7 separate regions of the Homo sapiens genome follow, and regions 1, 3, 4, 5, 6 and 7 are each reported to be linked to region 2. The links are microRNA targets in miRTarBase. Many come from high-throughput screens and were not tested one by one. Region 2 holds a microRNA gene; each other region holds the end of a gene's coding sequence.
Evidence for each region. The annotated mature microRNA hsa-miR-548ab reads AAAAGUAAUUGUGGAUUUUGCU and lies in region 2 at 1,707-1,728, shown strand. An mRNA with a match to its seed (bases 2 to 7 or 8) in the 3' UTR can be bound and repressed. Matches are read on the target gene's strand: a 7mer-m8 pairs with bases 2 to 8, a 7mer-A1 pairs with bases 2 to 7 and ends in A, and an 8mer does both.

Region 1: the mRNA of SIX4 is a reported target of hsa-miR-548ab. Seed matches in the 3' UTR shown: 7mer-m8 at 921-927, 7mer-m8 at 1,322-1,328 and 7mer-m8 at 3,953-3,959.
Region 3: miRTarBase lists KIAA1586 as a target of hsa-miR-548ab. Seed matches in the 3' UTR shown: 8mer at 3,055-3,062.
Region 4: miRTarBase lists PPP1R18 as a target of hsa-miR-548ab. Seed matches in the 3' UTR shown: 7mer-m8 at 1,334-1,340.
Region 5: miRTarBase lists GIMAP4 as a target of hsa-miR-548ab. The part of its 3' UTR that is shown has no 7-base or 8-base seed match.
Region 6: the mRNA of RCC2 is a reported target of hsa-miR-548ab. Seed matches in the 3' UTR shown: 7mer-A1 at 3,017-3,023.
Region 7: the mRNA of YAP1 is a reported target of hsa-miR-548ab. Seed matches in the 3' UTR shown: 7mer-A1 at 654-660 and 7mer-m8 at 1,062-1,068.

What each region holds. Positions count from the first base shown.
Region 1 is chr14:60,709,847-60,713,927 of GRCh38, reverse strand. SIX4 (SIX homeobox 4) reads left to right here. Exons shown (of 3, transcript NM_017420.5): 3 at 1-4,081. The coding sequence ends at 521. Among named protein-coding and RNA genes, the nearest start is that of SIX4, 12 kb to the left of the region's middle.
Region 2 is chr3:103,521,732-103,525,812 of GRCh38, reverse strand. It overlaps MIR548AB (microRNA 548ab), which reads left to right and starts at 1,697; the gene lies at 1,697-1,780.
Region 3 is chr6:57,054,110-57,058,190 of GRCh38, reverse strand. It overlaps KIAA1586, which reads right to left. Exons shown (of 4, transcript NM_020931.4): 4 at 2,966-4,081. The coding sequence ends at 3,328. Among named protein-coding and RNA genes, the nearest start is that of KIAA1586, 9.5 kb to the right of the region's middle.
Region 4 is chr6:30,673,874-30,677,954 of GRCh38, reverse strand. It overlaps PPP1R18 (protein phosphatase 1 regulatory subunit 18), which reads left to right. Exons shown (of 3, transcript NM_133471.4): 3 at 667-1,566. The coding sequence ends at 686. Among named protein-coding and RNA genes, the nearest start is that of DHX16, 2.9 kb to the right of the region's middle. RefSeq lists a silencer at 2,857-2,996.
Region 5 is chr7:150,572,555-150,576,635 of GRCh38, forward strand. GIMAP4 (GTPase, IMAP family member 4) reads left to right here. Exons shown (of 3, transcript NM_018326.3): 3 at 1-1,399. The coding sequence ends at 506. Among named protein-coding and RNA genes, the nearest start is that of GIMAP4, 7.2 kb to the left of the region's middle.
Region 6 is chr1:17,405,396-17,409,395 of GRCh38, forward strand. RCC2 (regulator of chromosome condensation 2) reads right to left here. Exons shown (of 13, transcript NM_018715.4): 13 at 1,365-3,799. The coding sequence ends at 3,695. It also overlaps RCC2-AS1. Among named protein-coding and RNA genes, the nearest start is that of RCC2, 32 kb to the right of the region's middle.
Region 7 is chr11:102,229,414-102,233,494 of GRCh38, forward strand. It overlaps YAP1 (Yes1 associated transcriptional regulator), which reads left to right. Exons shown (of 9, transcript NM_001130145.3): 9 at 289-4,011. The coding sequence ends at 527. Among named protein-coding and RNA genes, the nearest start is that of BIRC3, 86 kb to the right of the region's middle.

The DNA of each region.
Region 1 (4,081 bases), not on the chromosome of region 2:
CCTCATTAGTTAATGTATCTCCAACTCACAATTTTTCTCTCAGTCCCTCTACACTACTAAATCCCACTGAGCTAAACCGCGACATTGCCGATAGCCAACCAATGTCTGCACCGGTGGCAAGCAAATCTACTGTGACATCTGTCAGCAACACTAACTATGCAACTCTTCAGAACTGCTCCCTTATTACTGGTCAAGACCTATTGTCAGTCCCTATGACTCAGGCTGCCCTTGGGGAAATAGTTCCTACAGCTGAAGATCAGGTAGGTCACCCCTCCCCAGCAGTACATCAGGATTTTGTCCAAGAACATCGTTTGGTTCTGCAATCGGTAGCTAACATGAAAGAGAATTTCTTATCAAATTCTGAGAGCAAAGCAACAAGTAGCTTAATGATGCTGGACTCTAAATCCAAGTATGTCTTAGATGGCATGGTTGATACTGTCTGTGAAGACCTGGAAACAGACAAAAAAGAGCTTGCCAAGCTCCAGACTGTCCAGCTGGATGAAGATATGCAAGACTTATGAACTTTATTTCCTCCTCACCTCTTTTTGGCATCAGCGGCAAATCTTTTCATGAAGCCCCAAGGACACAAAACATTTTCCCATTTAAAGGAAAACACTCTAGTTTTGCAAGTATATGCATACAAGAGACTTTAGATTGATCTGCATGAAGATCACAGTTAAGTATACAGGAGTAGAACTGCATTATTGCAGCCTTTTTGTTCACTTATAAATTTCTCTTTTAAATAGATGGAGACAAAGGACAAGGTGAAATGTATCAAGTCAAAGTGAATCATTTAGTTGACTCTATAATTCTAAGGTCAAAATGGAACTTGATAGTTTTTTAAATTAAAAAATGTATACACCTAACATAGAAAATTAAAGATAGCTGCAGACCATTAGAAATAATACAATTGTTTTTGTTTACTTTTACTCCATGGGCATTGAAAAGGTTAAGAAACATAAATGGTACATATTTTTAAAGTTAAGTAGCATGCATATATATATGCACACACACCTCTTTTTCAGCATTTTTTGAGAAAGTCTTGGGTCTCAAACACATTTGTCTCAACACATTTCCAAATGTGATTTCTAATAGCTCAGTGTGGCTGAGAAAGTGCGGAACTCCACTAAAAACTCTGAAACTTCAGTATAAATGTAAATATATCAGTTCTATAAGCAGGATTTGAGTAATTACAGTGAATTTTATTTTTAATGTATATGTTTCTCTTCAGGCGCTATGAACTGAAAAATATGTTTTCTTACTGTTTAATTTATTTTTATTGTTTGAACAGGAAGTGAACATAGTCGTTTCCAACAAAGTTTTACTTTTTGTAGGATTTTAAAAATAATGATTTTTACCAGGAATCTATTAAGGTCAATATTAATAACACTGAAACAGGAAATCTAACTCCCAATATTGGAATTTTGGTACTTTTTTTCACATCCTTGTTCTTTATTTAGCAACTCTGATTCATTTAAATATGTTTTTTATAGAATTCTATGTGCCTTTTTACCTCGTGGCCTTTTTATTGGTAGTAAGGTACAGAAGTGTCAACAGAAGCACTGATGGTTCTTTTCTACTATCTAACAGGGTTAATTTCACCACAAAATTGCTTTAAATCTGAAGAACTTAAGTTTCACTAAATAATATATATGACATTTATCACACAAATGGATAAACAACTAATTATTGTTGATACTTTTCATTACAAGGAAAATAAGTTATAAATACCATGTCAAATTGATTATACAGGCTATGAAAACCATTTTAAAGGAAAGAAAATATGTAAATTCTATTGAGCAAAATTCTGTCCTGTTGAAACTTAGTTCTAAAGGTTTTGAATCAGTTGTTACACTCTGACACATGACTGTTGTTTGCACTATATTATCATGTCTTCTTTAAAAGTAAATATTTTTGGTTTCTGTAAGAAGCTTGTTTAATAATGTTGTAAGCCGTGGCTATAGTTTTATCAAGACTCTGAACACAAGATGTAACAATGCAAATAAATTTATGTAGTGAGTAAAGTTGCTCTCTAGTCTCTGAAAAGCAAAAAAAGTGAGAAAATAATTTCTTCAGAGATAACTTCAAGTTGTTGAACATAAAGGTGTTAGATGTTAGCACATCTTGCTTTTTTTTTTTTTTTGAGATGGAGTCTCGCTCTGTTGCCCAGGCTGGAGTGCAGTGGCACGATCTTGGCTCACTGCAAGCTCTGCCTCCTGGGTTCACGCCATTCTCCTGCCTCAGCCTCCCGAGTAGCTGGGACTACAGGCACCTGCCACCATGCCCGGCTAAATTTTTGTATTTTTAGTAGAGACGGGGTTTCACCGTGTTAGCCAGGATGGTCTTGATCTCCTGACCTCGTGATCTGCCCGCCTCGGCCTCCCAAAGTGCTGGGATTATAGGCATGAGCCACTGTGCCTGGCCACATCTTGCTTTTTTTTTTATGATCAGAACAAAGGGCCCACTCTAGTTCTCTACATGTCAATCAATCAAGCATGTTGAATAAGGGACATAGAGGATTTAACTTTTGTTATCATAAATGGAACTTGCAGGCATATATCAAGAACCCTATGAAGAATTCCTCTCCCATCATTTTGATAAAGAACTACATCATTTTTGATAGAATTGGTGAATGTTCCTAAACTGCTGAAGCTACATGTTTTTTGTTTTGTTTTACAAAGTCAGGTGTTTGAGAGTTCTTTTCCACTCTACTACTACTCATAGAGCTTGTTTTTTCTTTGGGTGTGTGCTGATCCTGTTACTGAGATTAATTACATGGCTCTGCAGTGTAGTTTACATAAAAATGATGTTTTCCACTTGATTGCTGCAGATATCAAGAGTTTGTTATTTTCAAATACCCATCCAACAAGAGAGATGGGGAGGTTTTTAGTTATATATGCTATATATATATATATAACTGGAAATGTTTTATATGTTTTCCGAAAATACAATAAGCCTCTCTTTTATTCAGTGTTCTTCCTCTTTTCTCCCTTATGAAAAAGAAAAGATAGCACAAAACTTAAGACTTACCTAGGAAACCCATTCATATTCCCACCATGATGTAATTATAACCCTACAATTACTTCAGGTAGCTACACAATATACCAGGTAAGAATCAATGCACAGTATAAAGAACTTATTGTTCTTTTCTATTCTTTCAGTTGAATAAGGGCCAGTTGGTATGCAGCCCATGTATATGTGAATGGAGTAAGATAAACCCCATGATCTCCTTGCACAGAATTGCAAATGTCTTTTGCCATACCAAGGGCCAGACTCAGAACCCTTGGAGTCATGTGGCAGAATTTCCCTCTTACATAAACCAATGCTTGAAAATGCTGCAAATGACCCTCTAATGATCCCTGAAGATCAAAACAGGGGTAAATGACTCCCTGCAAAACCCAACCCATGCTGCTGGCTGTGGGATTTTTGGTGTAAGCCTATCTATGCACTCTATCAGCCAGAATTTGGCATTTAGCTCTTAGTTAAATCTAGTAAAGGACAGTCTATTGTTTAAAGAGAAGGTGCATTTGTTCCTCAATCAAGCAAGAGCACCTGTGTTGTACTGCTTTATATCTCATGTATATTTATAGTAATGAAAAGACTTTTTAAATTGTACACGTTTCAGTGCCTTTCTTGTGTTATGAAAGGCAGGTAGATATTATAGCCATAGGTAAAAATCCATAGTTAAATTGCACACTGACCTTAAATCTCTCTGTGTATGCCCTTGTATCTTGCATGTTAAAAGTTGGATTATTGGGCATGTGTGGCAGCCTGCCCTGCTACATGCTAGACAAGTGTGCTTTAGTACATAGCCACAAGTTCTTCATTCTTTAAAATGTTTTGACAGATCATCTCATAATAAAAATAATTCAGGAAAACTATGGGGAAATAGTTACATTTCACAAAAGATATTTTAAACTCTTTGTAAAACTTAGATAATAGAGCCTAGCAGTTACTTTGTATCTAATTGATACATTTTATGTTAATTTACCACCATACATTTTATTAATCAAAATTGTATAGCATGTGACTCTTTTGGCTTTCAGAGTTCTCAAAAATATTATTTTGTTGCATGTACTGT
Region 2 (4,081 bases):
CAGTTACTACTGCTAGCTATAGATAGTTTATTTTCCATATATAAAACCTCTTTCCCTTTTCATTATCCTCATTTATACAGTTAGGTCCCCATCCTATCCCTGACATGTTTCTTCCATCTCAACTTTGCCATCACATTGAGGCACTTCTTGGTCTCTCCACATGTTGCCTATCAAAACTTATCTGCTGTAACCCCGATTCCAAGTGAGTTCTTGCTCTTGGTTATCAACCACTTGGAAAGTATTCAGTATGTTTTAATCATGTATTAAATGTGGATGGTGCTTTTATATTTTTCTACTTCCTCATATTAGCATTTAATACTTTATTCCATAGGAAAGAATTCCCCCTAATAGAATGTCTGGTTATTTGACACCTACAAAGCAGGCAAATTTTGAGCATGGAAAGCTACCTGGTGACCCTCAGTCAAACCATGTGGAGATTTGCCAACAGGAAAGATTAGCCTGGCAGCACACAGTACCGAGTCATAAACTATTTGACTCTAAAACCTGGATATGGCAATGATTGTATCAGTAGCCATAAATCAGGCAATTATCTGAAAGTGGGGAGAAATATGGGGTTCACTTTCAGCACCCCAAAATCATTTCACTTTAACAAGGAAACACACATTTTAATTCATTATTACTTTCATACTTCTTTTCTTTATTCATTGATTCTGAAGAATAACTAGAAATAATTTCCAAACTGTTGTTTACCTTTTCCACCACTCTTTGTAATCAAATTTGCATTTGTCCTTTGCTTTGTGGACAAACAAATGATTAAACATGTTTTCAATTATTCTTCGGTGTGCCATTAGCCTACCTCTTTTTTCCTTTTATTCCATTTGGTAAATAAAATAAAAATATTTAATATATGTGCTGATATATTTACCTTTGCATTAGATTTTCCCCTTTGTTTTTGAAAGAAGTCCCCTTCTTCAGGTAAATAATATCAAATAGAGTAAATTTGATCAACATTGTTGCAGGAATCCATTTTTCACAGTCAATTAGAGAAGCAGAAAAGGAGGAGCACCACCCTTCTTTCTCTTCCATATCTATTATTTCCAACTGGCCAGGCAAATTGATAGTGCATGTGAAGATGGCTGTGGAATCATGGCAAGCTTGTAACTGTGATATGGTCTATGAAATTCTGCCTGCATACCTATACAACTCCAAGCAATGTTTACAAATTCACACTACTCCTCTAGTAGGACATTTTGAGAGGAAAAATACTTTTTATGAAGAAAATTTAGGGTTTTAATAATATTTCTTTTGATTAAAGTATAATACCAATTTAGTACCCAAATTATTGAAAACATGGTTAAGTTCAAAGAAGATAAATGAAATATCCAAAACCCCATAATAAAATTGAAGCTTTATGTGTGCATATATGTGTATACTTGTGTGTATTTGTGCACTCATGTTTACTTGTATTTACATACATAAACTATGAGAATCACTCATGGTGTTCATTTCTCAAATTAACACATAGTCTACTGTGAGAAATTGAATCAATTAACTTATTTGTGTATTATATCTTGGAAGCCCAATTGGATATTCTAAATACTGGGCAATTAGAAATGGAATGAGCCGATATATTGGGTGGGTGAATTCTTTATACTAGTTTTGTTTGCTGTAGATCTCTATTTATTTATTTATTTATTTACAATAACATGTCTATAATCTGTTTTTTCCATCCATTATGTTGGTGCAAAAGTAATTGTGGATTTTGCTATTACTTGTATTTATTTGTAATGCAAAACCCGCAATTAGTTTTGCACCAACCTAATAGAAAGCATGTTCCATTGGGGCTAGGTCAGCAGTGTATTGGCTCACCACCTCTTCCTCAGATTACCTGATATAAATCAGGTGTTCAGTGACTATCTGTGGGTAGAGGTAGATATATGATTGCAGATTACAATTAGCCTTTCACTGTGCCAGGGTCTGATACAGGCATTGCAGAGCCTCATGTTTACACAACTGAGGACTCTCTTTTTTTTTTAAACAAATATTAAGACATTAATACAAACTTGCAAGACATCTTCCAGAGTCTCAGAAGAAGCCTTGGCTAGGGAGGTGCCCCCAAAGCTTAAGCTTTATTATTTCTTTGGAAAATTCACCTCTGCTTTCACTATATTTGATATATTAGTTTTAAATATTTTTGTCTTCACACATTCTGTCCTGGTCCATTTTTTTCTCTTTGTCTGCATTTTCTAGCTATATAGATACAATGTTCTATTGGATCTTCTTGTTTGTGAATGAAGAGATTTTATTTAATAAAAAGACATTTGGACATTTGATTTGGTTCTTCCCATGGTGTCTTCTTATGAATTGCTGTATGTTTTCATATATCTGATAATTACATTCTGTTTTCTCATACTTATACAAGGAATTCTACACTCACACAGCATTAGAAATTAAGATAAAATGTGTAAAATTCTGTTGTTTCCTGTCCTGAGTATTTAACCCCCATATGAAGAATGGAAACGGTTAGATAAGCCAGGGTTGCTTTGCCAGGACCCTGTGCTCATTAGCTCTCTGCATCACTAAGACATCTTGGAAGCAATGCTTTCTACCTGACGGTGCTATCCTCATCCCATGCTTTCTATCTGAGGGCGCTATCCTCATCCCATGCTTTCTACCTGACGGTGCTATCCTCATCCCATGCTTTCTATCTGACGGCGCTATCCTCATCCTATGCTTTCTACCTGACGGCACTATCCTCATCCCATGCTTTCTACCTGACATTGCTATCCTGTCAAGGGGTAATGAAGTTCATGACAATTTTTATTTGTTTTTGTTTTGTAGAGAACTACCATCCAACAGAAATACAATGTGAGTCCCAAAATAGAGCCACACATGTAATTTTAAAAAGTTACTTAAAAAAGTAAGAGAAAACAAATAAAATTAATTTTAGTAATATATTTTAACCCTGAATATATGAAATGATACTATCTGAAAATATATTTTATTGTCACATAATAATTATACATATTTATATGGTATACATGTAATGTTTCAATATGTATATACACATAATCATTAAATCATGATAATTAGCACACACATCACCATAGATATTTATCTTTTTATTGTAAGAATATTCAGAATTCTCTCTTCTACTTATTTGAAATACACTATGCATTATTGTTATTGTCACCATACTATGCAAGAGTACCAGAAATTATTCCTTCTATCTCACTGTAACATTGTACCTATTGACCAACCTCCTCTAATCTCCCCTTACCCCACTCTCCTCAGCTCTAGAAACCACTGTTCTACTCTCAACTTCAATGAGATGAAGATTTTTTATTCCAAATACGGGTGAGATAATGAGGTGTTTGTCTTTCTGTGCCTAGCTTATTTCACTTAACATAATATCCTGCAGGTTCATCCAAGTTGTGTCAAATGACATTTCATCCTTTTCATGGCTGAATAGTAGTCCCTTGTGTGTATACATACCACATTTTCTTTTTTAAAAAAATAATTTCAACTTTTATTTTAGATTCAGGGGGTATATGTGAAGGCCTGTCACATTAGGACACTGTGTGATGCTTAGGTTTGATGTACAAATGACACTGACACCCAGTGAGCACACCCAATAGGCAGTCCTTTCAGGCCTCACCCCATTTTTCTTTCCTTATTCCACTAGTCCCCATTGTCCATTGCTTCCATCTTTATGTCCATGTGTACTGAGTGTTTGGTTCCCATGTATAAGTGAGAAATGCAGTATTTGGTTTTCTGTTCCTGTGTTAATTGCCTAGGATTCTAGCCTGCAACTGCATCTATATTGGTGTGAAGGACATGATTTCATTCTTGTTTATGGCTAGGTAGTATTCCATGTGTACATGTGTCATATTTTCTTTTTCCAGTCAACCTTTCATGGGTGCCTAGGTTGATTCAATGTCTTTGCTATTGTGAGTAGTGCTGCAATGAACATATACATGTCATAACATGCCTTTTAGGCAGAACGATTTATTTTCCTTTGGGTTTATACCCAGTAATGAAATTGTCATGTAAAATAGTAGTTCTGCTTTAAGATTTTTGAGAAATCTCCAAACTGTTTTCCACAGTGGTTGAATTAATT
Region 3 (4,081 bases), not on the chromosome of region 2:
TTAGCTGGAGTGCCATTTATTGTGACAGAAAATGTTTTTTTTTTCTCATCTAGCTGAAACTGTTATAACACACGCAGAGATTTTAAAAGCTGCATGAGATGGGCGCGGTGGCTCACACCTGTAATATCGGCATTCTGGGAGGCTAAGGCGGGTGGATCACTTGAACCAGGGAGTTCGAGGCCAGCCTGGGCATCATGGGGAAACCCTGTCTCTACCAAAAATACAAAAACTAGCCGATTGTGGTGGCATGTGCCTGTAATCCCTACTACTTGGGAAGCTGAGGTGGGAGGATTGCTTGAGCCTAGAAACAGAGGTTGCAGTAAGCCATGATCATGCCACTGCCTGGGCGACAAAGCAAGACCCTGTCTCAAAAAATAATAATAATTAACATTTAATTATTAAAAAAACAGCTGCATAAATTTGTTTTTTGTTTTTTTTTGACTTGGAGTCTTGCTCCGTCGCTCAGGCAGGAGTGCAGTGGTGCGATTTTAGCTCAGAAACCTCTGCCTCCCAGGTTCAAGCAATTCTCCTGTCTCAGCCTCCTGAGTAGCTGGGACTACAGGCACCTGCCACCATGCCTGGATAATTTTGTATTTTTAGTAGAGGTGGGGTTTCACCTTGTTGGTCAGGCTGGTCTCGAACTCCTGACCTCAGGTGATCCACCTGCCTCGGCCTCCCATAAAGTGCTGGGATTACACGTGTGAACCACTGCACCTGGCCATAAATTTGACTTTTGGGGCCATCAATTGAAATTATTTCTTCATAATTTTTAAGTCCTATGAGACTCAATGTAGTGTGTTACTTGGGTAGTTTCTCAAATTATGAAACTGTTCTAAAACTACAGAAATGTACTTATGATTTTTCAGATTTAGAATCAATTAATCTTTAATATTGCTAGGTCCTATATTCTAATAGCAATTGTTTGGTGCTTAACTAAAGGCCTTGTACTTTTTTTTTTTTTCTGAGACAAAGTCTCGCTCTGTCGCCCAGGCTGGAGTTCAGTGGTGTGATCTCTGCTCACTGCAACCTCCGCCTCCTGTGTTCAAGCGATTCTCCTGCCCTAGCCTCCCGAGTAGCTGGGACTACAGGTGCATGCCACCAGGCCCAGCTAATTTTTTGTATTTTTAGTAGAGATGGGGTTTCACCATATTAGCTAGGATGGTTTCGATCTCCTAACCTCATGATCCACCTGCCTCGGCCTCCCAAAGTGCTGGGATTACAGGCATGAGCCACAGCACCCAGCAAGGCCTTGTAATTTTTAATAAAACATCTTATTTAGGCTTTTATTCATAATTTTCTAACAATTTCTTCAACTGAAATAATTTCACATTTATCCATTTAAAACTAGTTCTCAGCCAGGCATGGTGGTTCATGCCTATAATCCCAGCACTTTGGGAGGCCAAGGCAGGAAGGCTGTTTGAGCCCAGGAGTCCAATACCAACCTGGGCAACATGGCAAAACCCCATCTCTACAAAAAGATATAAAAACTAGCTGGGTGTGGTGGCATGTACCTGTATTCCCAGCTACTTAGGGGGCTGAGGTGGGAGGACTGCTTGGGCCCAGGAGGAAGAGGCTGCAGTGAGCCACTGCAGTCCAGCTTGGGTGACATAGCAGGACCCTCCCCTCTCCCATCCAAAAAAAAAAAAAACCCTAATTCTTTCATGCAAGAATCTCAGCTATTTTGCTGAGCATGGTGGCTCACTCCTGTAATCCTAGTACTTTGGGAGGCTGAGGCAGGCGCATCACCTGAGGTCAGGAGTTTGAGACCAGCCTGGCCAACAAGGTGGAACCCCGTCTCTATAAAAAATACAAAAAAATTAGCTGGGCATGGTGGCAGACACCTGTAATCCCAGCTACTTGGGAGGCTGAGGCAGGAGAACTGCTTGAACCCAGAAGGTGGAAGTTGCAGTGAGCCGAGATTGCACCACTGTACTCCAGCCTGGGTGACACAAGACTCTGTCTCAAAAAAAAAAAATTAGGCAGGCGTCGTGGCACACTCCTGTAATCCTAGCTACTCGGGAGGCTGAGGCAGGAGAATCACTTGAACCCAGGAAGTGGAGGTTGCAGTGAGCCAAGATTGCGCCATTGCACTCCAGCCTGGGTGACACCACAAGACTCTGTCTCGGGAAAAAAAAAAAGAATCTCAGCTATTTCACATCTGGCCAAACTTACAACCTTAGTTCCTTCTAAAATTGTTTTTAAAAACTCTTGTTAATTCTGATTTTAGGTGACTAAATTTCATTGATTCTTTTTGGCATATGAAATATAATTTACCCAATTCATTTTGCATCTGCTGAAGTCTCAATTTTCCTACTTTGTTTCTTAAATAGCAGCTTGTTTTGCTCTGCCACAGCAAACTGCAATTGCCATTCATTGTCAAATCTGCAACATACCTTCTTTGAGTCTGTTTACTGTTCCAGTTGTACTAGGTTCTGCATCGCCACTTGATTCTTTTTCAGTATGCCTTCATTTTAAATTTAAAAATTTGCTCATATTCATGTGTAAACTAGAAAAATAATTTAATCATGATTAAAATAAGTATTTCAATTACCAGTTATAATTTACACAGGAATCACTGTAATTCCTGTTGTCTGCATAAAATATTCAGATAAACATGATGTTACATCAATTTGTAGAAAAAATAACTTGCATTGAATCCATCTGCTGACAGCAGTATCATATCTATCAGCAATATGTTTATATTCAATATTGGAAATGACACACAAGTTTGACAGGCACACTACAACAACCATATCTTATGCAAGGTAACAGAGTAAAATGTATTACTGAAAAACAGTAAAGCTAAGCAGAAAAATATTTCACATTGTTTCAGTTTTCATATTTAAGTAAAAGTAAATAAATAAAAATTTTACTTTTAGCCCTAAGCTGATCAGCCACATGTAGCTAGTGGCTACCATACTAGATAGCACAGATATGGAAATGAGAAAGACAAGAGCCAAAAGGCTTACAGTTTTTATTCCATTTCTCTTTTATTTAATATAACCTCCAGGGCTTAGAACTTAGCTGAGTCCTGCTATTTTTTGCATCCTTACTTAAAGTAAAACAGTACAAAATTATAAACGGTGTTTGTTCTGTACAGAACTTCATGGAATATGTATTATGACCCACTCTAGCAAACATGGGCCAATCTCTAAAAAACTATAGCTTCTAAAACCAATCTTCAAGATTATCTTCTTAAAGAACGCCTTTTAAACAGCAACATGCTGATAAAAGTTTAACTGGCTTTCCAAAAAAAAAAAAGACCTTTATGTATATAAAGGATGTGTAGTACATAATTTACAGATGACAAAAAACGTATACAATATTCTATTTTAAGTTCCATATAGCCAATTGATTCTCATGGAAGACTTTTGTTGACTTTTGCCGAACTCTTGTATCTGTAGCCAACCTGTGGTTGCAATTTGACCAAGATTTTACAAACGGTGTTGCATCCCAATCTGCTAATTCTTTCCCCAGTAAATTTATTGTCATTAAATCTGATACATGATCTATTGTTAAACTATTTCTCACCCTTGTACAAATTATGTTCATTAAATTGAAACCCCTTTCAGCTTCAGCACTATTGATTGCAATGGTGCTAACTATCTTTTTAGCTTTGTATATAGTTGTAGGAATTGAAACATTGTTTGATTTTATATTATTATTTACAAATTCCCGAAAATCATTCAAATCAACTTCATATTTTAAAATTTTACACAAATGAAATAATGTTTTTTCACCAGCTATCCATGGTGAAGTTATTTCTTCATAAGGCCATGTGGAAGGTTCCAGCAAATCAAAGTAATTAAAAATATCTTCATGGTTTCTGTCAGATAAAAGGCGTAGGTTCATGTGCTGAATTATATTGTCTAGTAATATACTCCTAGGAAGAGCATTAAATTTATTGTTTTTATTAAATGGAATATCTTTAAACTTATCTGACTTGATCAAATCTTCAATTTGAGATTCATACTTTCCAGTACCAATTTTTAAATTTTCCAAAGCTCTTATGGTACGTTTGATCAATTTTTGTGCTTTCTTAATATTAGTTGATCTTGACTGTAATGCAGTTGAAAGTACT
Region 4 (4,081 bases), not on the chromosome of region 2:
TGGGTGACAGAGTGAAATTCTGTCTCAAAAAAACAGAAACCAAAAACTACCTCCTAGACTTGTAGAAAATATTAAGTAATTTTATTTATTTATTTATTTATTTATTTTGAGACAGCGTCTCCCTCTGTCGCCTGGACTGGAATGCAGTGGCACAACCTTGGCTCACTGCAACCTCTGCCTCCCAAATTCAAGCGATTCTTGTGCCTCAGCCTCTCTAGTAGCTGGGATTACAGATGTGTACCATCACACCTGGCTAGTTTTTATATTTTTAGTAGAGACAGGGTTTCCCCATGTTGGTCAGGCTGGTCTTGAACTCCTGACCTCAAGTGATCCTCCTGCCTCAGCCTCCCAAATTGCTTGGATTACAGGTGCTCCAGGCCAAGATTAAGTAATTTTTTGTGAAGCACCAAGAGCCACAGCTGGATATCATATTACTTAATCTCTCCTGGAGTTATGGTGAGATTAAACAGTTATAAGGATGCCTGGCACAGAGTCCGAGCTAAATGAGTGATGGATGTGGTTACTGGTGGTAACATGCTTTAGATATGGAAGATATTATAGGACTTCCTGCATGCCAACTGCCCTTCAATTTGTGTGGGGGGGAAGGGTGGGCAGAAGGCAGAGGCTCTCACTCATTCTCTAACATTATTGCCCCCTCTCCCACAGATGAGTCCTGCCGGCGGTGACCATCTTCCAACATAGGGATATACCTCCCTCCTTCTTATAACTGAAGATCCTGGAGCCCGGAAGATTCAGGGCAGACAGACCCTGATAATGAGCCTGGCAGGGAAGGGCAACCAACATCTTGTAACTTGCTTTCCCCACCCTGTTTCTGGGGGCAGAGCCAATTGCCCAATTTCTACCCTAATCCAAAGTCCCTGGTGTGGGTGGGGTTAAACGTGCTGGTGCATCCTAGGTCATCCAAGAGTGAGCGCCAAGTCCTGAGAAGGGGCACAGAACTCCCTGGAGGGTGGAGATGGAGCACCTGCCCCCCATGGCAGGGTACACTCTCCCCACAGCCTTCCTCCCCACCATCCCGTGGGGACTCTCGGGATTTAAGCACTCGTCTCTCTGGGAGGCCCAGACCCCACTCCATTTATAGGCACATCTCCTTCATTTCCTAGGTCACTGCCCCTTTGTTTACAGCTCCTGCCTCCTCCCTTGACCACAGCCTGGTTTACAAATTCCATCAGCTCCCAGCCCCACCTGCCAAAGTCCCAGGTTTACAAGCCACGCTTACTTGCTGTGTCTGCGTGGAATTCTCTCCTCTGTCCCCTCCAGTCTCCTCATTGGAGTGACCTGAAGGTGTGGCTTCCTCCACTTTTTCTCAGTATTACTTTGCCTTAGTTTTCCCCAAGAGGGAAGGCTGGAACTCTTAACTCTGTACCCCTTGATAGTTATTTAATTCTGTTTCTCCTAGTGGTTCACAATTGAACTGAATTGAGATGGTGTCGGGTGGCTAAGGAGACACCTCACCTCTCCTTCCCCATTGTGCCGCCTTTATCAATTGCCTGTTTTGTTTTGTTTGTTTTTTAACTTTCCATAATAAAATGGAGTTCTCTTCAACTCGTCTGCTTCTCCTTCTTTGGGAAAAAAAAAGGGTATGTGAGGGGAGGCTCTGGTGGCTGGGGGAGAGGAAAATGATGGGGGATGAACCAGGAACTCGGCACTGACATGTCAAAAGGGGTCTGGGAAGCTGCACGTGGGTTTCACGCAGGACAAGCAGGTGACATGAGAAAGGGCAGTTGAAGTGTCCACTAGACTGGAAGTGCCATGAGGGCTGACTACATCAGCTGGATTCACTGCAATATCCTGTACCTGTCAACTAGTAGACACGGAATTATTTCTAGAATGAATGACAACAAATGAATGAATAGAAGAAAAGGGTTAAAATATTACAGAGGACACTTTGAGTTGAAGGGTTCTAGTATTCAGAAGCCTGCTGCCATGAAGGCAGCTAGGTAGTGTATGACACAACCCATGTGGCTAATCCAGGGATACTTACTTAAAGAGCTGGGGCTACGAATACTAAATCTGAAATTGCTGCAAAATGAAGTAAGTATGTACAAGAGTCAGTTTCCTGGAAAAGGTTCCCCTCTGATAGACAATGGATTTTATATCGTTAAAGGCCTAAAGGCCGGGCACGGTGGCTCACGCCTGTGATCCCAGCACTTTGGGAGGCCGAGGCAGGCGGATCATAAGGTCAGGAGATTGAGACCATCCTGGCTAACACGGTGAAACCCCGTCTCTACTAAAAATACAAAAAATTAGCGGGGCATAGTGGTGGGCACCTGTAGTCCCAGCTACTCGGGAGGCTGAGGCAGGAGAATGGCATGAACCCGGGAGGTGGAGCTTGCAGTGAGCTGAGATTGCGCCATTACACTCCAGCCTGGGCAGCAGAGTGAGACTCCATCTCAAAAAAAAAAAAAAAGGTTTAAAAACCATCTTGATAGTGCATGGCTTTGGTGCCCATGTAGTTGATATTTGGAATTTTCCCATTTCAAAGAATATCTTATACAAATGTGGAACATCAATATTTTACTCATCAGGAAAATTTGTTTGTTTGTTGTTAGCTCTCCAGGCTAACAAAGATATGGTTGAATAGTTATAGTCCTTCTACCACTACAAGTTGCTCCTCTCAGACTGGTCAGAGGAGGCCCCACACCTTTACTATAAAACAAAATATATGAGACAAATTGAACTTAAGCATACGCCAAAGGTTTTCAATTTACTAGCAAGAGAACAAGCCAGGTGTCAAAAGACTCAGCCAGTTCAGAGAAGGTCTGGGTAGGGAAGGAAACAGAATGATTATATTAGTAGCCTGTTAGGTAAAGGTCTTAAAAAGTTTCCAGTTGTGACCCAGGAAAACAGAGTTAGGAAGCTCCGAGGTGCCAGGGGTGCTCACAGTCCATCTCAGAAACAGAAAACAATGCATTCAAGAGGTCAGGCCAGGTGTGGTGGCTCATGCCTGTAATCCTAACACTTTGGGATGCCAAGGCGGGTGGACTGCCTCATCTGAGGAGTTTGAGACCAGCCTGGGCAACATGATGAAACCCCGTCTCTACTAAAATACAAAAAATTAGCTGGACGTGGTGGCACGCACCTGTAGTCCCGCCTACTCAGGAGGCTGAGGCAGGAGAATTGCTTGAACCCAGGAGGTGGAGGCTGCAGTGAGCCAAGATCACGCCACTGCATTCCAGCCTGGGCGACAGAGTGAGACTCCGAGACTCCCTTTCCAAAAAAAAAAAAAAAAAAGTCAGTGATGTAGATCCACTTGTGGCTATTAATAAGAACAATGTTTCATTTCCTAACAGTAGTGCCTGGTAACTGCAATTAATCACAAAAGTATGATGCAGGATCAAACAAATCAGACAGCAGAGCATCGAGTAACAAATTCAGCTTTTTGTTTTGTTTGTTTTTTTTTTTTGAGCATAGTCTTGGTCTGTTGCCTAGGTTGGAGTGCCTGACCTCGGCTCACTGCAACCTCTGGCTCCTGGGCTCAAGAGATTCTCCTGTCTCAGGCCCAGTGCGGTGGCTCACGCCTGTAATCCCAGCACTTTGGGAGGCCGAGACGGGCGGATCATGAGGTCAGGAGTTTGAGACCAGCCTGACCAACATGGTAAAACCCCATCTGTATTAAAAATACAAAAACTAGCTGGGCGTGATGGCATGTGCTTGTCACACTTGTAATTCCAGCTACTCAGGAGGCTGAGGCAGGAGAATCACTTGAACCTGGGAGGCGGAAGTTGCAGTGAGCCGAGATCGTGCCATTGCACTCCAGTCTGGGCAACAGAGCGAGACTCTGTCTCCAAAAAAAAAAAAAAAAATTCTCCTGTCTCAGTCTCCAGAGTAGCTGGGACTACAGGTGCACACCTCCACACCTGGCTAATTTTTTGTAGAGATGGTGGGGTCTCACCCTGTTGCCCAGGCTGGTCTCAAACCCCTGGTCTCAAGATATCCTCCTGCCTCAGCCTCCCAAAGTGCTGGGATTACAGCAAGAGCCACTGCACCTGGCCTTGCTTACTTTTAAATAAGCAGCCACCAGTGATTTTCTCAAGCTGTTAAGCAAAAATGCAGAACA
Region 5 (4,081 bases), not on the chromosome of region 2:
CCAATTTGCATGACTACTTAAGGGAAGCTCCAGAAGACATTCAAGACTTGATGGACATTTTCGGTGACCGCTACTGTGCGTTAAACAACAAGGCAACAGGCGCTGAGCAGGAGGCCCAGAGGGCACAGTTGCTGGGCCTGATCCAGCGCGTGGTGAGGGAGAACAAGGAAGGCTGCTACACTAATAGGATGTACCAAAGGGCGGAGGAGGAGATCCAGAAGCAAACACAAGCAATGCAAGAACTCCACAGAGTGGAGCTGGAGAGAGAGAAAGCGCGGATAAGAGAGGAGTATGAAGAGAAAATCAGAAAGCTGGAAGATAAAGTGGAGCAGGAAAAGAGAAAGAAGCAAATGGAGAAGAAACTAGCAGAACAGGAGGCTCACTATGCTGTAAGGCAGCAAAGGGCAAGAACGGAAGTGGAGAGTAAGGATGGGATACTTGAATTAATCATGACAGCGTTACAGATTGCTTCCTTTATTTTGTTACGTCTGTTCGCGGAAGATTAAACTTAATGAAAATCTGTTTGTATTTTCTGCATATTCTCTGGCAACCTTGCCCCATACTTACTTATTTAGCATAGTCGAGTGCTCTAGTTTCTGTCTCTCAGGCACTCGTAACTAAGGACCACCATTGGCCATTGGTAGATGTTTGATTGACTTAACAAGAGAGGGACAAATTTTCAATTTGTGAAACTCCAAAGCAGAAAGTATTGGTGCTTGCTACCTTGTGAATTCTTCCTTAGACATGCAGAGAAAATGTATGCAAGAGACCAAAAAGATGGCTCCAAGCTATGTCATGTTACCTGTAATAAAATCTTTTCTTCTAGATTCTTTCTATGTTGGCAGATAATCTCCCCTTGTAGCTTCCACTCACTTATTCTTGCATTCAGAGTCACAATGATCATCTTACCCATGTGGTTTTTGAGAAAGAAAGATCAATTCTTTGTTTGCAGTAGGTAATCTTAGAGATGGAGATGATTGTAGAATTATTCCTAGATGAGTGTCAATTTATTTAATTCCATTGTCATATAAGGAGTCAAATTGTTTCTTATCATTTGTTCATTGAAGAACAGAGACCTGTCTGGAAAATCGATCTCTACAAATTCAATTAAATAATGATCCCCAAATGCTGAAAAAGTGAAATACAGCAATTCAACAGATAATAGAGCAATGTTTAGTATATTCAGCTGTATCTGTAGAAACTCTTTGACGAACCTCAATTTAACCAATTTGATGAATACCCAGTTCTCTTCTTTTCTAGAGAAAGATAGTTGCAACCTCACCTCCCTCACTCAACACTTTGAATACTTATTGTTTGGCAGGTCATCCACACACTTCTGCCCCCACTGCATTGAATTTTTTGCTTATGTTGTTTATAATAAAACTTTTCAATTATCTCATATTTGTGCAGAATTGGAACCTGTTTTGTCTTGGAAAATACTACTGCTACTTCTAATAATACAGGGATGAATTTCACTTTATGGTAAGAGTTCAAGATGATTTTGGAGCTAGACTTTGTCTACCCTCATGACATCTCCCCTTCCCCCTTTCCCTAGAAGATTTGAGCCACAATCTCAACCCATTTATCAGCCAAAGACCACAACTTCCTTGGATCTTCATTATGTGCTGATGGAAATTATGAGTAACCAAGGTTTCTGAGACCTGTGTAGTTTTGTTGGTGCAAAAATTCCCTTTACTATAGAGATAGCGATAGTTGAAGTTCCTATCCCTTTTCTACTTTTCTACTGGGCTCTCCTCACCTAATAATTTCTAGAAATCCTGAAAGCGTGTTTTCATGTTCTACCAGTATGTCCTAGAGGTCACATGTGATTATGCCAACATTCCATGTTCTGCCATCTTGAAATTGGCTTCTCCATGCCCTAAATCATTTTGCCCAAAATAGGATATACATTTCCTTTTTTTTAAATTTTATTATTATTATACTTTAAGTTTTAGGGTACATGTGCACAATGTGCAGGTTTGTTACATATGTATGCATGTGCCATGCTGGTGTGCTGCACCCATTAACTTGTCATTTAGCATTAGGTATATCGCCTAATGCTATCCCTCACCCCTCCCCCCACCCCACAACAAGCCCCGGTGTGTGATGTTCCCCACCCTGTGTCCATGTGTTCTCATTGTTCAATTCCCACCTATGAGTGAGAATATGGGGTGTTTGGTTTTTTGTCCTTGCAATAGTTTGCTGAGAATGATGGTTTCCAGTTTCATCCATGTCCCTACAAAGGACATGAACTCATCATTTTTATGGCTGCATAGTATTCCATGGTGTATATGTGCCACATTTTCTTAATCCAGTCTATCGTTGTTGGACATTTGGGTTGGTTCCAAGTCTTTGCTATTGTGAACAGTGCTGCAATAAACATACGTGTGCATGTGTCTTTATAGCAGCATGATTTATAATCCTTTGGGTATATACCTAGTAATGGGCTGGCTGGGTCAAATAGTATTTCTAGTTCAAGATCCCTGAGGAATCGCCACATTGACTTCCACGATGGTTGAACTAGTTTACAGTCCCACCAACAGTGTAAAAGTGTTCCTATTTCTCCACATCCTCTCCAGCACCTGTTGTTTCCTGACTTTTTAATGATCGCCATTCTAACTGGTGTGAGATGGTATCTCATTGTGGTTTTGATTTGCATTTCTCTGATGGCCACTGATGATGAGCATTTTTTCACGTGTTTTTTGGCTGCATAAACGTCTTCCTTTGAGAATTGTCTGTTCATATCCTTTGCCCACTTTTTGATGGGTTTGTTTTTTTCTTGTAAATTTGTTTGAGTTCATTGTAGATTTTGGATATTAGCCCTTTGTCAGATGAGTAGGTTGCAAAGATTTTCCCCCATTTTGTAGGTTGCCTGCTCACTCTGATGGTAGTTTCTTTTGCTGTGCAGAAGTTCTTTAGTTTAATTAGATCCCATTTGTAAATTTTGACTTTTGTTGCCATTGCTTTTGGTATTTTAAACATGAAGTCCTTGACCATGACTATGTCCTGAATGGTATTGCCTAAGTTTTCTTCTAGGGTTTTTATGGTTTTAGGTCTAACATGTAAGTCTTTAATCCATCTTGAATTAATTTTTGTATCAGGTGTAAGGAAAGGATCCAGTTTCAGCTTTCTATTTATGGCTAGCCAGTATTCCCAGCACCATTTATTAAATAGGGAATCATTTCCCCATTGCTTGTTTTTGTCAGGTTTGTCAAAGATCAGATGGTTGTAGATATGCAGCATTATTTCTGAGGGCTCTGTTCTGTTCCATCGATCTATATCTCTGTTTTGGTACCACTACCATGCTGTTTTGGTTACTGTAGCCTTGTAGTATAGTTTGAAGTCAGGTAACATTATGCCTCCAGCTTTGTTCTTTTGGCTGAGGATTGACTTGGTGATGCAGACTCTTTTTTGGTTCCGTATGAAGTTTAAAGTAGTTTTTTCCAATTCTGTGAAGAAAGTCATTGGTAGCTTGATGGGGATGGCATTAAATCTATAAATTACCTTGGGCAGTATGGCCATTTTCACGATATTGATTCTTCCTACCCATGAGCATGGAATGTTCTTCCATATCTTTGTGTCATCTTTTATTTCATTGAGCAGTGATTTGTAGTTCTCCTTCAAGAGGTCCTTCACATCCCTTGTAAGTCGTATTCCTAGGTATTTTATTCTCTTTGAAGCAATTGTGAATGGGAGTTCACTCATGATTTGGCTCTCTGTCTGTTATTGGTGTATAAGAATGCTTGTGATTTTTGCTCATTGATTTGGTATCCTGAGACTTTGCTGAAGTTGCCTATCAGCTTAAGGAGATTTTGGGCTGAGACGATGGGGTTTTCCAGATATACAATCATGTCATCTGCAAACAGGGACAATTTGACTTCCTCTTTTCCTAACTGAATACCCTTTATTTCCGTCTCCTGCCTGATTGCCCTGGCCAGAACTTCTAACACTATGTTGAATAGGAGTGGTGAGAGAGGGCATCCCTGCCTTGTGCCAGTTTTCAAAGGGAATGCTTCCAGTTTTTGTCCATTCAGTATGATATTGGCTGTGGGTTTGTCATAGATAGCTCTTATTACTTTGA
Region 6 (4,000 bases), not on the chromosome of region 2:
CAGGGCGTGGTGGCACTTGCCTGTAATCCCAGCTACTCAGGAGGCCGAGGCAGAATTGCTTGAACCCAGGAGGCAGAGGTTGCAGTAAGCAGAGATCACACCACTGCACTCCAGCCTGGGCGACAGAGCAAAGCTCCATCTCAAAAATACAAGACCGAGCGCGGTGGCTCATGCCTGTAATCCCAGCACTTTGGGAGGCGGCCAAGGTGGGAGGATCACGAGGTCAGGAGTTCGGGACCAGCCTGGACAACATGGTGAAACCCCATCTCTACTAAAAATACAAAAATTAGCCAGGCATGTGGTGGACACCTGTAATCCCAGCTACTCAGGAGGCTGAGGCAGGAGAATCGCTTGAACCCAGGAGGCAGAGGTTGCAGTGAGCTGCGATTATGCCACTGCACTCCAGCCTGGGTGAAAGAAACTCAGTCTCCAAAAAGACTGTCGGAGTGGACTGCAGGAGTCAGGGGCGAGACACACGACACTCAATTTGCAGCATGTGCCCAATACACAACAGCCAGTGTGTCAGCAGGGACGCTGCCCCCAGCAGTGGCTTCCCTGCCCACGGGGGCTCTTCCAGGGCAGGAGCATCTGATGGGAAGCTCCAAGCTGCCAAGGGGGGAGATGGGGAAACACCGTGTTTTACATTTGGACTGTCCTGCAACAGTGCACATGCTCCTTCTGCAGCTAACAGGCCATGGGAGACCGTTTCCTCCTCTCCCAAACTGGGCCAATGCCTGCCAGGAGGGGCTGGTCTGGACACTATTCAGCCAGTCAACACAAGGTGGCCTGCACTCGAGGTTCCAGGGATCCCAGGCATCTTTGCGGCTGCAGGGAGCCGGTGTCCTGTGCAAGGGTCTGGTCTAGGACTCTGCCCGGTATAGACTCAGCAGCAGCCTAGAAGGGAGAGTGTCCGTGATCTCTGAACCTACGACCAGCCTCCTGGTGCCCTCTGGTGGGCAGTTGGCCACAATGCCTGCACAGAGCAGCACTGGCCTGAAGCCACAGCCGGGGCCTGACCAGAGCCCCCTGCTGAAGTCTGGGGAGTGGGTGCACATGCAGTCACCGCGCTGGATGCCTCCCATGACTTATTTTTTTCCTCTCAAAGCCCCAGTGAAAATGCAAAGAACTCCACTTCTGAATTGGACAACTGAGGTACTGACTCTGTCCCACTCCCCTAGCATTTCATGGGGCAGAGTTGGGGGATCCACTCACTTCAACCAGTGCAGTTTAAACCTGGAAGCTCCCCTGGGGCCACATGTCTCCTGGCACCACCTTCTGTGGGTGCCAGGGCTTAGGAGGTACACATATAAGGAGTTAAGAAAAACAGAGCTCCGTTCCAACCGAAAAAGAAATGCAAAATCCAAGACAGTAGACAATGTTGTTGTTTATTTAAAATGTTTACTCCAAGAAATATATATATAAAAAAAATAATAAGACAATTACAGCACTAAACCAGGCACCTTCGACCAAATCACAACCTCCTCTTTGATTCCCCTTCACGCTAAGCCTCTTTCAAATTCTTTTTCCTGAGCTGGAAGACCAGTCAGATGCCCGCAGGGTCAGCGCCAAGCACATTCCCAACCGGGCAACTGTGTACCTTTCTCTAGGAGTGCACGACACCCTTCCCCCACAACTCCTTGTTTTAAAGGATTTAACCCATTAGGAAGCCCATTTTTCAATCTAAGCCAGAAGGAGCTGCGGGACAAGGCAGTCTTCACTTTGAAGGTCCCTTTCCTGCTCCAGTCCCTGGGCTAGGGTTCTAGAAGAGGCTGGCTGCCACGTTTACATGAGGCCACCGAAGATCTAAGTCCAGCTAAGCCCAGGGAGGCTCCTGCAAAGGCTGGGACCTCGGGTGCTGCGTCCTCAACCCTCTCGGTGACCACGGCTCAAAGGAGAGACCTCAAGGGTGCCAGGAGCACAGGTGCCTGGGCTGCATTCCAGGAAAGAGACCTGTCCAGGGAAACGGATCAGGCTGTCGCATGGAAGCTTACGTCAGAGATGGTGGTTTTGGGGTGATTTGGACAAATTAGGTTAGTTTAGCAAAGCTCTGAAGTAGCAGAAGCTTCTCCCCTGGACTACTGATTGAACACAGAACAAGAGATGCGCGTGGCGTCAGACTAAGTCTTAGAGAGATGCAGGCCAGTCTCCTCCCACAGGGCCTTGGGACTGGCAGGACAGACACTGCTACATGCCCTCCAAGGGCAGGAGTCACGGTAAGGAGCGACTGGGGTGGAAAATAGGGAAAAAAGCAACAACAACTACATCATTTTTGGCATTTTAACATGGAGACAGTGACAAGTGGTAACAAAGCAAAAGAAAAAAAAAACTTGAAGAGACCAATATTTAACTTTCCCATCCACCCAAGTCTCACACTTAAGTTCTAGTCCCATCTCCCCCATAAGCACCACTGAACTAAATATCTATTTTAAAGCACCCAAACCAGTCCAGACCCTCTGGAAACCAAGAGCCCCAGCCACAGCTGTCGCCTCTCTTGGGTCCAGGCGAGAGGAGGGTTCCGGGAAAGGCACCTCATAACTCACTCAGCGCAGCACACACGGCGGCGAGCTCGGGCACTTGACGAGGACGCAGGTGGCAGTCACAGCATCCGTGCTGACACGCAAGGAAGGGGACTCTTCGGTAATCCCAACTATTTGGTACCAGAGCCAAGCAAACGTGACTAAAGGGAGCTGGGTCAGCAGAACGGTACCCCGAGTCTCAGCAACAGGACGGCCCGCGCGAGGCAGGATCCAGGCGGGGGGGAGAAAAAGAGACCAAAGCACAAGGCGATCGAGGCTGGCACAGAAAGGGCTGATCCTTCTTGCAAGGACTGGAGAATGCACTTGACTGCTGGCTGGTCCATCTCTTAATTGGCGAGTGCGCGTGACAAGGCTCAGCCCTGGCTCCACAGGGAGCCACCAAGCTGACTCAACTGATACAAATGTTCCCACCTCTGCCCCACCCCCAAGTCCCCATGGTTCCACAATCACCTGATTTTCATTTGGACCTCTTTAACAGCTAAAGTAGATATAAATGGCTAAACACAGATCCCCAATCCCCCACCAGGGGGGACACGGCCGATTCTATAATGTCGCAGCCAGAAGGCTGTGGGCGTACAGGCAGCCAAGGGGAGAAACAGAACCGACACCGGCCTAGGCCCATCTGCAAGAAAAAGCGGAGAAGGAGTGACCCGGATGCTTCCGAAGCACGCGAGCGTGATTTTGGATGGAGGCGGGCCGGTGACTGCCTAGCTGCTGCCGGTTCCTGTAAGGGACATTTTTTCTGAGTAAATGGCGATTCCTCTTCCATGTGGCATCTGCTTGGATCACGATGCTAATTGTAACTGGAAAGGGGTGTTTTGGGGAGTGTATTCAGGAGAGGAAGAAAGAAAAAACTTAAAAAAAAAAAAAACCTAGATTGCTCAAAGTTTCTGCCTCTTTTGTAGGAATGGTAAATCAACTATGAGCAAGTATTTTAATTCAACATTAAGGGAAAAAAAAGGACTTTGGAAAGCATACAGAAAAAAAGGTAGTTAACGTTGGATCATGTGTAAAACGGAACCTCAGGGAGTCTAAACAAAAATGCACCTTCGGTCAACTTTTGCTTTTTTAAATTCCTCGTTTGACTTCCCGTCCCAGTGCACATGGAAATGACAGCTGCCGCGAGAGGTGTGGAGTCGGAGGAGTCTCCGGGAGCATCAGAGGGTTCGGGGGTTGTATTCTGGCAGTTTCTTGATCTTCTCTTTCTCAGTCTCACTTTCATCTCTTGCTATCACCAAGGAGTGTGAGTAGCCCATGGCGACCTGGGGGGACAAATCAGCGTTGGGTGTGCCTGAGGCGCCTGGACTAATCAATGCGTTGAAGAGACTCTGGAAACTGGGCTGCTAAAGCGGGTCAGCATGGAGAAAAACAGAGTGCCCTTGAAAACTGCAAAAAGCCCCTCTGCCCAAGACAGCTAGTTTCCATGTGACTGCCACCAACGCTCTGCCAATCAGAGCCTTCCA
Region 7 (4,081 bases), not on the chromosome of region 2:
CATATAATTTTTCAAGGGCTTTTTTATTTTTTTCATGACTCCTTTAGTGCTCAGCACATAATAGCAATCAAGCTGTTATTGGATATCTGAACAATGTTGAAGCAAAAGTAAACTTGGCATTGTTATTTTGTTATCTGTGAGTTGTTTGACCTGATATAAATTCTAGGTATCAGTTTAGGTCAGTCAGGAGCGCTTTTCTTTCCCTGTGCATTTCTCTGTGCTCATATGATACAGCCCTGATGTTAGCTTTTCAAAAAGGACTTTGTTATCTCTGTGTGTTTCCACTAGGTGATACTATCAACCAAAGCACCCTGCCCTCACAGCAGAACCGTTTCCCAGACTACCTTGAAGCCATTCCTGGGACAAATGTGGACCTTGGAACACTGGAAGGAGATGGAATGAACATAGAAGGAGAGGAGCTGATGCCAAGTCTGCAGGAAGCTTTGAGTTCTGACATCCTTAATGACATGGAGTCTGTTTTGGCTGCCACCAAGCTAGATAAAGAAAGCTTTCTTACATGGTTATAGAGCCCTCAGGCAGACTGAATTCTAAATCTGTGAAGGATCTAAGGAGACACATGCACCGGAAATTTCCATAAGCCAGTTGCAGTTTTCAGGCTAATACAGAAAAAGATGAACAAACGTCCAGCAAGATACTTTAATCCTCTATTTTGCTCTTCCTTGTCCATTGCTGCTGTTAATGTATTGCTGACCTCTTTCACAGTTGGCTCTAAAGAATCAAAAGAAAAAAACTTTTTATTTCTTTTGCTATTAAAACTACTGTTCATTTTGGGGGCTGGGGGAAGTGAGCCTGTTTGGATGATGGATGCCATTCCTTTTGCCCAGTTAAATGTTCACCAATCATTTTAACTAAATACTCAGACTTAGAAGTCAGATGCTTCATGTCACAGCATTTAGTTTGTTCAACAGTTGTTTCTTCAGCTTCCTTTGTCCAGTGGAAAAACATGATTTACTGGTCTGACAAGCCAAAAATGTTATATCTGATATTAAATACTTAATGCTGATTTGAAGAGATAGCTGAAACCAAGGCTGAAGACTGTTTTACTTTCAGTATTTTCTTTTCCTCCTAGTGCTATCATTAGTCACATAATGACCTTGATTTTATTTTAGGAGCTTATAAGGCATGAGACAATTTCCATATAAATATATTAATTATTGCCACATACTCTAATATAGATTTTGGTGGATAATTTTGTGGGTGTGCATTTTGTTCTGTTTTGTTGGGTTTTTTGTTTTTTTTGTTTTTGGCAGGGTCGGTGGGGGGGTTGGTTGGTTGGTTGGTTTTGTCGGAACCTAGGCAAATGACCATATTAGTGAATCTGTTAATAGTTGTAGCTTGGGATGGTTATTGTAGTTGTTTTGGTAAAATCTTCATTTCCTGGTTTTTTTTACCACCTTATTTAAATCTCGATTATCTGCTCTCTCTTTTATATACATACACACACCCAAACATAACATTTATAATAGTGTGGTAGTGGAATGTATCCTTTTTTAGGTTTCCCTGCTTTCCAGTTAATTTTTAAAATGGTAGCGCTTTGTATGCATTTAGAATACATGACTAGTAGTTTATATTTCACTGGTAGTTTAAATCTGGTTGGGGCAGTCTGCAGATGTTTGAAGTAGTTTAGTGTTCTAGAAAGAGCTATTACTGTGGATAGTGCCTAGGGGAGTGCTCCACGCCCTCTGGGCATACGGTAGATATTATCTGATGAATTGGAAAGGAGCAAACCAGAAATGGCTTTATTTTCTCCCTTGGACTAATTTTTAAGTCTCGATTGGAATTCAGTGAGTAGGTTCATAATGTGCATGACAGAAATAAGCTTTATAGTGGTTTACCTTCATTTAGCTTTGGAAGTTTTCTTTGCCTTAGTTTTGGAAGTAAATTCTAGTTTGTAGTTCTCATTTGTAATGAACACATTAACGACTAGATTAAAATATTGCCTTCAAGATTGTTCTTACTTACAAGACTTGCTCCTACTTCTATGCTGAAAATTGACCCTGGATAGAATACTATAAGGTTTTGAGTTAGCTGGAAAAGTGATCAGATTAATAAATGTATATTGGTAGTTGAATTTAGCAAAGAAATAGAGATAATCATGATTATACCTTTATTTTTACAGGAAGAGATGATGTAACTAGAGTATGTGTCTACAGGAGTAATAATGGTTTCCAAAGAGTATTTTTTAAAGGAACAAAACGAGCATGAATTAACTCTTCAATATAAGCTATGAAGTAATAGTTGGTTGTGAATTAAAGTGGCACCAGCTAGCACCTCTGTGTTTTAAGGGTCTTTCAATGTTTCTAGAATAAGCCCTTATTTTCAAGGGTTCATAACAGGCATAAAATCTCTTCTCCTGGCAAAAGCTGCTATGAAAAGCCTCAGCTTGGGAAGATAGATTTTTTTCCCCCCAATTACAAAATCTAAGTATTTTGGCCCTTCAATTTGGAGGAGGGCAAAAGTTGGAAGTAAGAAGTTTTATTTTAAGTACTTTCAGTGCTCAAAAAAATGCAATCACTGTGTTGTATATAATAGTTCATAGGTTGATCACTCATAATAATTGACTCTAAGGCTTTTATTAAGAAAACAGCAGAAAGATTAAATCTTGAATTAAGTCTGGGGGGAAATGGCCACTGCAGATGGAGTTTTAGAGTAGTAATGAAATTCTACCTAGAATGCAAAATTGGGTATATGAATTACATAGCATGTTGTTGGGATTTTTTTTAATGTGCAGAAGATCAAAGCTACTTGGAAGGAGTGCCTATAATTTGCCAGTAGCCACAGATTAAGATTATATCTTATATATCAGCAGATTAGCTTTAGCTTAGGGGGAGGGTGGGAAAGTTTGGGGGGGGGGTTGTGAAGATTTAGGGGGACCTTGATAGAGAACTTTATAAACTTCTTTCTCTTTAATAAAGACTTGTCTTACACCGTGCTGCCATTAAAGGCAGCTGTTCTAGAGTTTCAGTCACCTAAGTACACCCACAAAACAATATGAATATGGAGATCTTCCTTTACCCCTCAACTTTAATTTGCCCAGTTATACCTCAGTGTTGTAGCAGTACTGTGATACCTGGCACAGTGCTTTGATCTTACGATGCCCTCTGTACTGACCTGAAGGAGACCTAAGAGTCCTTTCCCTTTTTGAGTTTGAATCATAGCCTTGATGTGGTCTCTTGTTTTATGTCCTTGTTCCTAATGTAAAAGTGCTTAACTGCTTCTTGGTTGTATTGGGTAGCATTGGGATAAGATTTTAACTGGGTATTCTTGAATTGCTTTTACAATAAACCAATTTTATAATCTTTAAATTTATCAACTTTTTACATTTGTGTTATTTTCAGTCAGGGCTTCTTAGATCTACTTATGGTTGATGGAGCACATTGATTTGGAGTTTCAGATCTTCCAAAGCACTATTTGTTGTAATAACTTTTCTAAATGTAGTGCCTTTAAAGGAAAAATGAACACAGGGAAGTGACTTTGCTACAAATAATGTTGCTGTGTTAAGTATTCATATTAAATACATGCCTTCTATATGGAACATGGCAGAAAGACTGAAAAATAACAGTAATTAATTGTGTAATTCAGAATTCATACCAATCAGTGTTGAAACTCAAACATTGCAAAAGTGGGTGGCAATATTCAGTGCTTAACACTTTTCTAGCGTTGGTACATCTGAGAAATGAGTGCTCAGGTGGATTTTATCCTCGCAAGCATGTTGTTATAAGAATTGTGGGTGTGCCTATCATAACAATTGTTTTCTGTATCTTGAAAAAGTATTCTCCACATTTTAAATGTTTTATATTAGAGAATTCTTTAATGCACACTTGTCAAATATATATATATAGTACCAATGTTACCTTTTTATTTTTTGTTTTAGATGTAAGAGCATGCTCATATGTTAGGTACTTACATAAATTGTTACATTATTTTTTCTTATGTAATACCTTTTTGTTTGTTTATGTGGTTCAAATATATTCTTTCCTTAAACTCTTCTTTGTTGTTTTTAACAATTGATATTTGAAACTTTTTTTTTTTTTGGCTTCTTACTGGTCTTCCAATAGAA